Homo sapiens: one gene and its partner. The protein of the gene in region 2 interacts with the protein of the main gene of each other region in a pairwise test. Each region holds a gene or a part of one and is shown on either strand. Other genes may lie near its edges.

Region 1 (3,500 bases), on a different chromosome or scaffold from region 2:
GAGCTACTTATAGTCTTTCTTACCACACTTGGTTTGACTGTTTCATACATTCTGCGGGAGAAATATGAAAGTGTTTGAAAATGGGGCACTGCCTTAGACCCCTGCGGCCACGTCATGCCATAGCATGCACTCAGAATCCCCATTCGGGTCTTGCCCCAAAGGCTCTGGATGAGGGATTATGGACCCAAAATAGTCCAGACTAATATGTAAACAGGATTCTAGCATTTATTAAATATATCCCCTTATATTCTCGTTGCATCCCCCAATAACCAGTTGTAAGCCTACTTGCCTATACTGGGATCCCAGTTTTACAGGTGAGGAGGCTGAGGCTCAGCAAGACTTCATGACTGGCCGAGCCACAAAGAGAACCCAGGACTCTCAACTCCTGGGCCAGCGCTCTTCCCAGCCCTGGGCCATCCGTGCCGATCATCCAGGGACCTATGGGAATGTGAATTCCCTGCAGCTCTGTATTATTACTAGGTAGTTGGCCCAGTGTTCTGGAGAAAGACATACCCCAAATAGGTCACAATTTTGTATTTGGTCAGCTCTTCGCTTAGCACCTTTACCCCACCGTCAGTGATCTGGTTTACGCTGAGTCTGAAATAAAACAGCAAAAAAATTACGAGTCAGGGCAGGCACTCATTATGAAGGACCATTAATCTTACAAAGATCCAGAAGCCTTCAGGCCCTGGAGTTTTCTCAGGTATAGACGCCCCTGGAGAATGGCCACAGCAATCAGCCAAATAGCCCCTTACAAAGCCTGGCCAACGTGGGGCCGCCAGACCCATCCTGCACCAGCCCATGAGCGAGGCTGCAGCACAGCCCCTGGCTCCTCACACGACCGTGAAGGACACAGGGAGGACGTGTGAGGCCAGCCACCTCTGACATCCACCCTTTGCGTGTGACCTATGTGTCAGCCAGACCCTGTACCTGGTTCTCGTATGGTGGAGGGCATGGGTTTGGAAATGTCAGGGGCTGCTTTTAGTGGTTGTGACTGGAGGAGGGAGTGCCCTGTCATCTTGCAGGCAGGGCCAATGATGTTAGGTGTCCTGCAAAATGCTGGACAGGTCTCACAAGAACTGTTATACCCAAAATGCCAACAGCTTCCCCCCATCCAGAAACACATGGGCTAACCCTGATTTGTCACTGGAAAAGGCTGTGAGTCCCACTGTCAAAGGAGACTGCTCATGTCATTCTGTAAAGTGTCAGACAGCAAATATTTTAGGCTCTGTGGGCCATGTGGTCTCTGTCACAGCTACTCAACTGTGTAGTGTGAAGCAGCCAGTAAGTAAATAAATGGGTATGGCTGCGTTCCAATAAAACTTTACTTAGAAACACAAGCCTTGGGCCCAATTAGACCCACAAGCTGACCTTGATAACAAGTAAAAGGCTGAACAATTAAAAGCTTGATTTTTAGGCCACATCAAAATGATCAAGTCAGACACTCTGGACCCTTTCCCTCAGAGTCCCCAGCTTGGTGCTGGGAAATAGTGTGTATGTACATGGCATGGCCAGCCCAAGACAGCACAGGCTGCTAGACATTCCCAATATCTATACTTTCTTAGCAATAGATTCCCCCATCTTTTAGCTGGGCCCATCTCATTAAATTCTGCCCATACCATTAAGTTCTGAAATCTAAGCAGCAATATAATTAGTAATAGCCAAGAAGTGTTCTTAAAAGATTGAGGCATGCTCTCAATCTTTGCCCTTCCTTCTTACTGATAGCTAGAGTGTCGACTAGATGGCTGGAGTTTGAGCAGCCCTCTTGGGCCAAGATGGGAAAGCCGGGTAGTGAGGATGGCAGAACAGGAAGGCAGAAGAGAGCCTGGGCTCCGGAGGGTCATGGAGACTCCATACCAGTCCTGAACTACCTACCTCTAGACTTTTACATGAGAGAAATAAGCTTGTAACTCACCAACATTTGGGGTTTTCGCTCTCAGCTAAAACTAATCCTAACTGATGCAGCCAGAGAACTGAGTGTGCTTCCCGTGGTTACCCATATCCTCTGCTTTCCTACAAGCTGTTTTTTCTTGCACTGGTGTGAAGGAAAGCTTCACCTGGGGACAGCAGGAAGGGCAGGGCCACCACACTGGTGTGGAGTTTCCCATTGAAAAGATGGACAGAGGGGTCGGGTGCGGCGGCTCATGCCTGTAACCCCAACATTTTGGAAGGCCGAGGCGGGCGGATCACCTGAGGTCAGGATTTCAAGACCAGCCTGGCCAACATGGGGAAACCCCGTCCTACTAAAAATACAAAAAACTTAGCCGGACATGGTGGCGTGTGCCTGTAATCCCAGCTACTCAGGAGGCTGGGGCAAGAGAATCGCTTGAACCCAGGAGGCGGAGGTTGCAGTGAGCTGAGATCACGCCACTGCACTCCAGCCTGGGCAACAGAGCGGGACTCCATTTGGGGGAGAAAAAAAAAAGATGGACAGAGGGTGGCACTGAGTGTGAGACTGCCTGGGGCTACAGAGGGAGAGTCACTGGCTGAGAGTACAGAGAACAGACTCCAGGTTTTCCAATTCCCAGGCTAGGGCAGCCTTCGACCCCCTGCACCCCATGTCCCCATGCAATTATTTACACTCTGACACTGGTGTGACAGGCACTGGGAGTCAGTTCCAAATCCCTACTGCTTTTTAGAAATGCATGAGTCAAGTAATGGCAAATTTAACCCCCTGTAGAGATTTACAAGGTTTATTTTACATAGGAAATGCTAATAGAAGAAAACAGACTGGGCTCTGTTTCCCGTAAACTATGGAACAGGAAAACAACCACGAGTCAGCATTTTAACTGAGGTCTCTAGCAGTGTGAAGGGCTGCTAGCGTTGATCACAGAAAGTCACCAGTGCCAACTGGCACAAGGTCTGCTTTCTCTGCAGTAATAAAAGCTCCCATATTCCAGAAACTTTTTGAGGGCTATCTCGGAGCCTTACATTAATCTTAAAAGGAAGGTTCTTTATGCATTCTGGCACTGCTATGTCTGAGCTGTGTGACCTAAAGCAAGCTATTAACTTCTCTGTGCCTCTACTTCCTTATCTGCCAAAATAGAGACAATAACAGTACCTAAGTTACAGGGTTGTAAAGAGCATTCCATTAGGTAATATTTGTAATGCACTTCACCCATTCTCAACTAACATTGGTCCCTGTGGCCATAATTGATAGGATTATGAGCATCTTCTTTTTCCAGATGAGGGCGTGGAGGCTCTGAGAGTTAAGCACTTTGTTCAAGGGCACCCAGCTGTGGCTGATCCAGGTCCACCTGCCTCGAAGCTTTGCACCTTGACCTCTGCCCTGCTAAGAAAGAAAAGGTCTGGACATTCCAAGGGCCATGGTCATGAGTCCTGGGGGATCCTGGTCCATGATGCCATTCCCGATGCCCTCCGAGCCTGGCCCGCCCGGCCCACCTGTTGCTCCCCTTGCCTGGCAGCCTCACCTGAGAACAGTGAGGCGGCTGAAGCAGGGCTGCAGCTCCCGCACGCCGTAGTCGTTGAGATTGTTGTTG
Region 2 (4,158 bases):
CATGGCTTCACTCCAAAATCGCAGGATCATTCCAGACCAGGCCCCGCACCTCAGCCAGTCTTCCCCTTCCAGACCCCGCAGGACTGCTCTAGCCCAGGTCTCTGCAGCCCTACCTAATGTGGCCAGACGACCCACATGCTTCCACGTCCCCTGGACGCCCTAAACCGCAGACTCAGCTCCCTGGGCTGACCTCCTCCTCCACTGGGTGCAAAGACCAAGAGCTGGGAGCTCAGGAAGCATGTTCCAGGCTGGCTGGGGCTACGTGGGGGCTTTACCGGGCCCAGGCGAGGGAGGGGCAGCACATGAGGAGGTCAGCGTTCACCCCCCAGCACCACCTTCTCCAGCCATTGAAAGAGGACCCTGGCCAAAAGAAACCAAGACTTTGGCTAAGAGTTCCACCTTCCAGCCCCACTCTGCTCTCCAGCCCCCGCGGGGCACTGTCCATCTGTGACAGTCCATGAGCTCTTCCCGGCTCCGCCAGGAGATGCAGGTCACCAGGGCTCCAGTGCCCCGGCTCCCTCAACACCACGGAGATCCGAGGCCTCCAGCCGAGCAAGAGCGGGGCATCAGGGTGACTGTGGGGAGAAGCTCCCGTCCACCTGCCCGGTACTAGCTGTGGGACCCAGCAGGCTGAGGACCCCCTTGTTCCCCAGCCGTGCCCTGGAATAATGAGGACACTGGTTCCAAAGTGCTGCTGTGAGGCGAAGGTGTCAATGCCTGTAAAGCATTCCAAGCGGATGCAGCTATGCCGTCGGGGACTGGCTTCCTCAGGTAGGGTTCATGTGAAGATGTACACTGGCTAGGAGGCGGCCACCCGGGGCACTCCCACTTCCTGGGGTTCTTTCTAAGACCACCCTGGCATCCAGGTGACAGGGATGGAGCTGGCGACGGCTGGGTGCAGCCCGGGAAGGGACCCTAACCTGGATCCCTGAGCCACATTAGCTCGGGAATGGTGACCTCTGTCACCGGGAGGGGCTGGCTGTGCTCAGGTGGGCACGGCCCCTCCCTTGGGGAAAAGCCAGGCCTGATTCGGGGTCCCCTGGAGAGCGTCCCTCTCCCAGGGTTGAAGGCATGGTGCAGGTGTGCAGGCCCGGTCGTGCCCGCCGTGACCCCCTTGTCCTCGCGCCCAACTCGCCCCCCTCTCCCACCTCTCAGTGCCTGGGCTCACCTGGCGCTCGTTGTGCTTTCCGTGGATCTCCACAAAGTCGTCCTGCACCTTCACGGTGAGGTCCTCCGGGGAGAAGTGCTTCACATCGAGGAAGATGACGAACTTGTCCCGGTCGGATCGAACCTGAAATCCAAACGTGCCATGTGGAGCTGCCCAGAGGGTGCCGTCCCTGCTGGGGTTGGCAGAGACAGGGCGGGTCCCGGTTATCAGAACAGAGATGCTTCGGTCACCTGCCGGCCTCTTCTCCCACACACCAAGTGGGGCAGAGCTTTCGGGGGCCTGTGACTGTCTCCTGGACAGACAGGCATGACCCTCGACCTGTCTCCAAACCCTCAGGGCCAGCTGAGGGGCTGAATGCTACTGGTGGGCCGGCTGGTTGTTTGGCTATGGTCAGGTGGCTGGTTATAGATAAGTTGGCTGGTTATGGGCTGGCTGGCTACTGGTTATGGTAGGAGGGGTCGTTACGGGTTGGTTGGTCCGTTAGGGTCAATCGTCTGGCTGGTGATGCTTGGCTGGCTGGCTGGACTCAGCCTGTGGAATGAGGTCACTGCCCTTGGTGTCATGCTGTCTATAGAAGCGGCCGGAGCCTGCTGACAGCCTGCGCAGCTGCCTCTCCAAAACGCACTTCCACATGCTCCTTCTCACTCCCCTGGCTCAGCCTTGGCTCCCTGAGGCATTTTGCACCCTGGCGTTGATGCCTACTGCAGCAGCCCTGGGGAGGACCCTGTTTATGAGGTGCTGGGTGGGACTCAGGCCCTCCAGAACAGCAGAACCTGCACCGCTCACCCGTGGCTCAGAGAGGAGGCCTGTGGTTGGGTGGGGGGGGGGGCGTCCATTGCCTGTCCTTTTAGCCTTGGCAGGGCACCTAAGTAAACTTGCCAAGAGCTTTGCTAGCCGTGGGCAGGCCGAGCTCATTGGAGGAGGTGCTAGGAACGCCCTGCTCTCTGGCTTTCAGGACTATGACCCCCACCTGCTCCCAGGTCTCCGGGACTCAGGAGACCAGAGGAACCCGGGAGCTGGCATTCGCCACCACGCATGCCTGGATGGGCTGCTCTTGGGGTTTCCAGTATGTGGCTGGTGCCTTACAAAGCACACATGGGTCATGAGCTGATGGAGGAAAGCAAAGGTGGATTCAGGCTGCTCCCTTGTCCACCCTCTCCCCAGTGCCAGGGGAAGCTCTGCCACGTGGCTGCAGTGGGGACACAGGCTCTCGCCCAGCCTCTGCAAGGGGATGAAGTGGGACGAGGCCACCTGCCTGACGGAGCAAGACCAGAGTCCATCGCTCTCCACCCACCGAGGCCACCACCCTCTGAGCAGCGAGGAGAGGCCAGCACCACGGGCCACGTCTTACCTCAGAGATGCCGGAGTCCAGCACGGTGCGGAAGAGGGACTGGCGGTAGTAGGGGCTGATGGTGGACGACAGGAAGGGCAGCAGGTCATACTCAAAAAGGCCCTCGCCGAAAAACTGGTCGAACAGCCGGCTGGGGTAGAAGGGCCCCAGGGTGCGCTTGAACCAGGGGTGCTGGATGGTCACGTCCATGTTCAGCTTTGGTACCACGGGGACCTGGAGGCTGGCAGGAGTCAGCGGGGCCTCTGGGCAGCGCAGTGTGGAGCCAAGGCCGAGCCCTCCCTATATATGCCACCAGCAGAATGGAGGCATTAAGGGATTTCTCTGGAAAGGCGTGAGCTCATGAAGAAGGCTGCTCAGTCAGCAGAAACGTGGCTGGGACAAGTGCCCGCCCCCAGCCCCAGGAGGGGCTGCACGGACTGTCCCCGAGGCCTGGACTCAGCTGAGGCCCGCCTGGGCACCCTGGGGCTCCCGGGAGGGCAGACAACCCAAGGAGGCGCCTGTGCCCCATACTCGCCTGGGGCGACAATGGAGCTTCTCATCTGCCAGTCACTGGGCAGGGGCTACGTGCCAGGGACCATGCTAGTTCTCTGCACACCTTGTCCTGCCGGGGTGGTCCTCATGGTCGCCAGAGGAGGGAGAGCACACACCCCCGTTAGACACAGAGGTTAGACACATCGTCCTCAGAGTCTCACCGGGCCTGGGCAAGAGTGCACTGGTTTCCAAAGCGGAGTGCATCTGTGAACCTCCGTTACACTCACCACTTACAAAAGTACGCATGCTTGTTAAAACTCGTGGAGAAGAAGCTGCAAGGTGCCATAATTCCAGCACCTGGGGGAGCCCTATGGCGTTTCATGCTTGTCCTCCAGGGGTCACATGCCTCCAACAGGAAGACGGGCTGGGCTGTGGGCAGATGAGAGCACCACGTGGTGAGCTTCCCTCTGCGGCCCACCCTGGACGCCCAGCCCCATGGCCATCGTCCCCTCGATGTAACGCCTCGAGCGTTACATCTCGTAATGATGTAATGCCTTGATGTAACATCCCCACGTAACGCCTCGAGCCTCCGTGGCATGACCTGCCGTGGCTGTTGAGTTGGGCTGCTCCTGTCAGGGTGGCGACATGTCCCCACGTCCCTGTCACCCATGCGGACCCACCACCCACATGATCCTGTTATCCACAAGTCCTGGTGATTATTTTGCTCCTCGACCCATGGCCCCTGTCCAGTTCTCACTAAGTGTCCAGGCACTCCCGGTTTTGTTTGTTTGTTTTTGAGATGGAGTCTTGCTGTGTCACCCAGAGTGGCGCCCAGATCATATAGTGGCGCGATCTCAGCTCACTGCAACCTCTGCCTCCCAGGTTCAAACAATTCTCCCACCTCAGCCTCCTGAGTAGCTGAGACTGCAGGTGCCTGCCACCACACCTGGCTAATTATTATTATTATTATTATTATTATTATTTTTGTATTTTTAGTAGAGACAGGGTTTCACCGTGTTGGCCAGGCTGGTCTCAAACTCTTGACCTCAGGTGACCCACCTGCCTTGGCCTCTCAAAGTGTAGGATTACAGGCGTGAGCCACTGCACCTGGCTCACTCCTAGTTTTAAGTCTTTTGATATTTTGGTATTTTGATATTTTGGTAAACTG

Evidence for each region. The genes of interacting proteins can lie anywhere in the genome.
Region 1: the proteins of CRYAA (region 2) and NOD1 interact in binary tests that used the Homo sapiens proteins (3 or more experiments, as listed by UniProt).

Annotation. Positions count from the first base shown.
Region 1 is NC_000007.14:30,447,785-30,451,284, forward strand, and holds part of NOD1 (nucleotide-binding oligomerization domain-containing protein 1), read right to left. Parts: coding exon 3,432-3,500; intron 3,293-3,431; exon of another isoform or gene 3,134-3,292; intron 598-3,133; coding exon 514-597; exon of another isoform or gene 508-513; intron 1-507. UniProt on the Homo sapiens protein: Pattern recognition receptor (PRR) that detects bacterial peptidoglycan fragments and other danger signals and thus participates in both innate and adaptive immune responses.
Region 2 is NC_000021.9:43,167,650-43,171,807, reverse strand, and holds the start of CRYAA (alpha-crystallin A chain), read right to left. Parts: upstream 2,801-4,158; 5' UTR 2,709-2,800; coding exon 2,520-2,708; intron 1,573-2,519; exon of another isoform or gene 1,477-1,572; coding exon of another isoform or gene 1,399-1,476; intron 1,292-1,398; coding exon 1,169-1,291; intron 772-1,168; exon of another isoform or gene 226-771; intron 1-225. UniProt on the Homo sapiens protein: Contributes to the transparency and refractive index of the lens. In its oxidized form (absence of intramolecular disulfide bond), acts as a chaperone, preventing aggregation of various proteins under a wide range of stress conditions.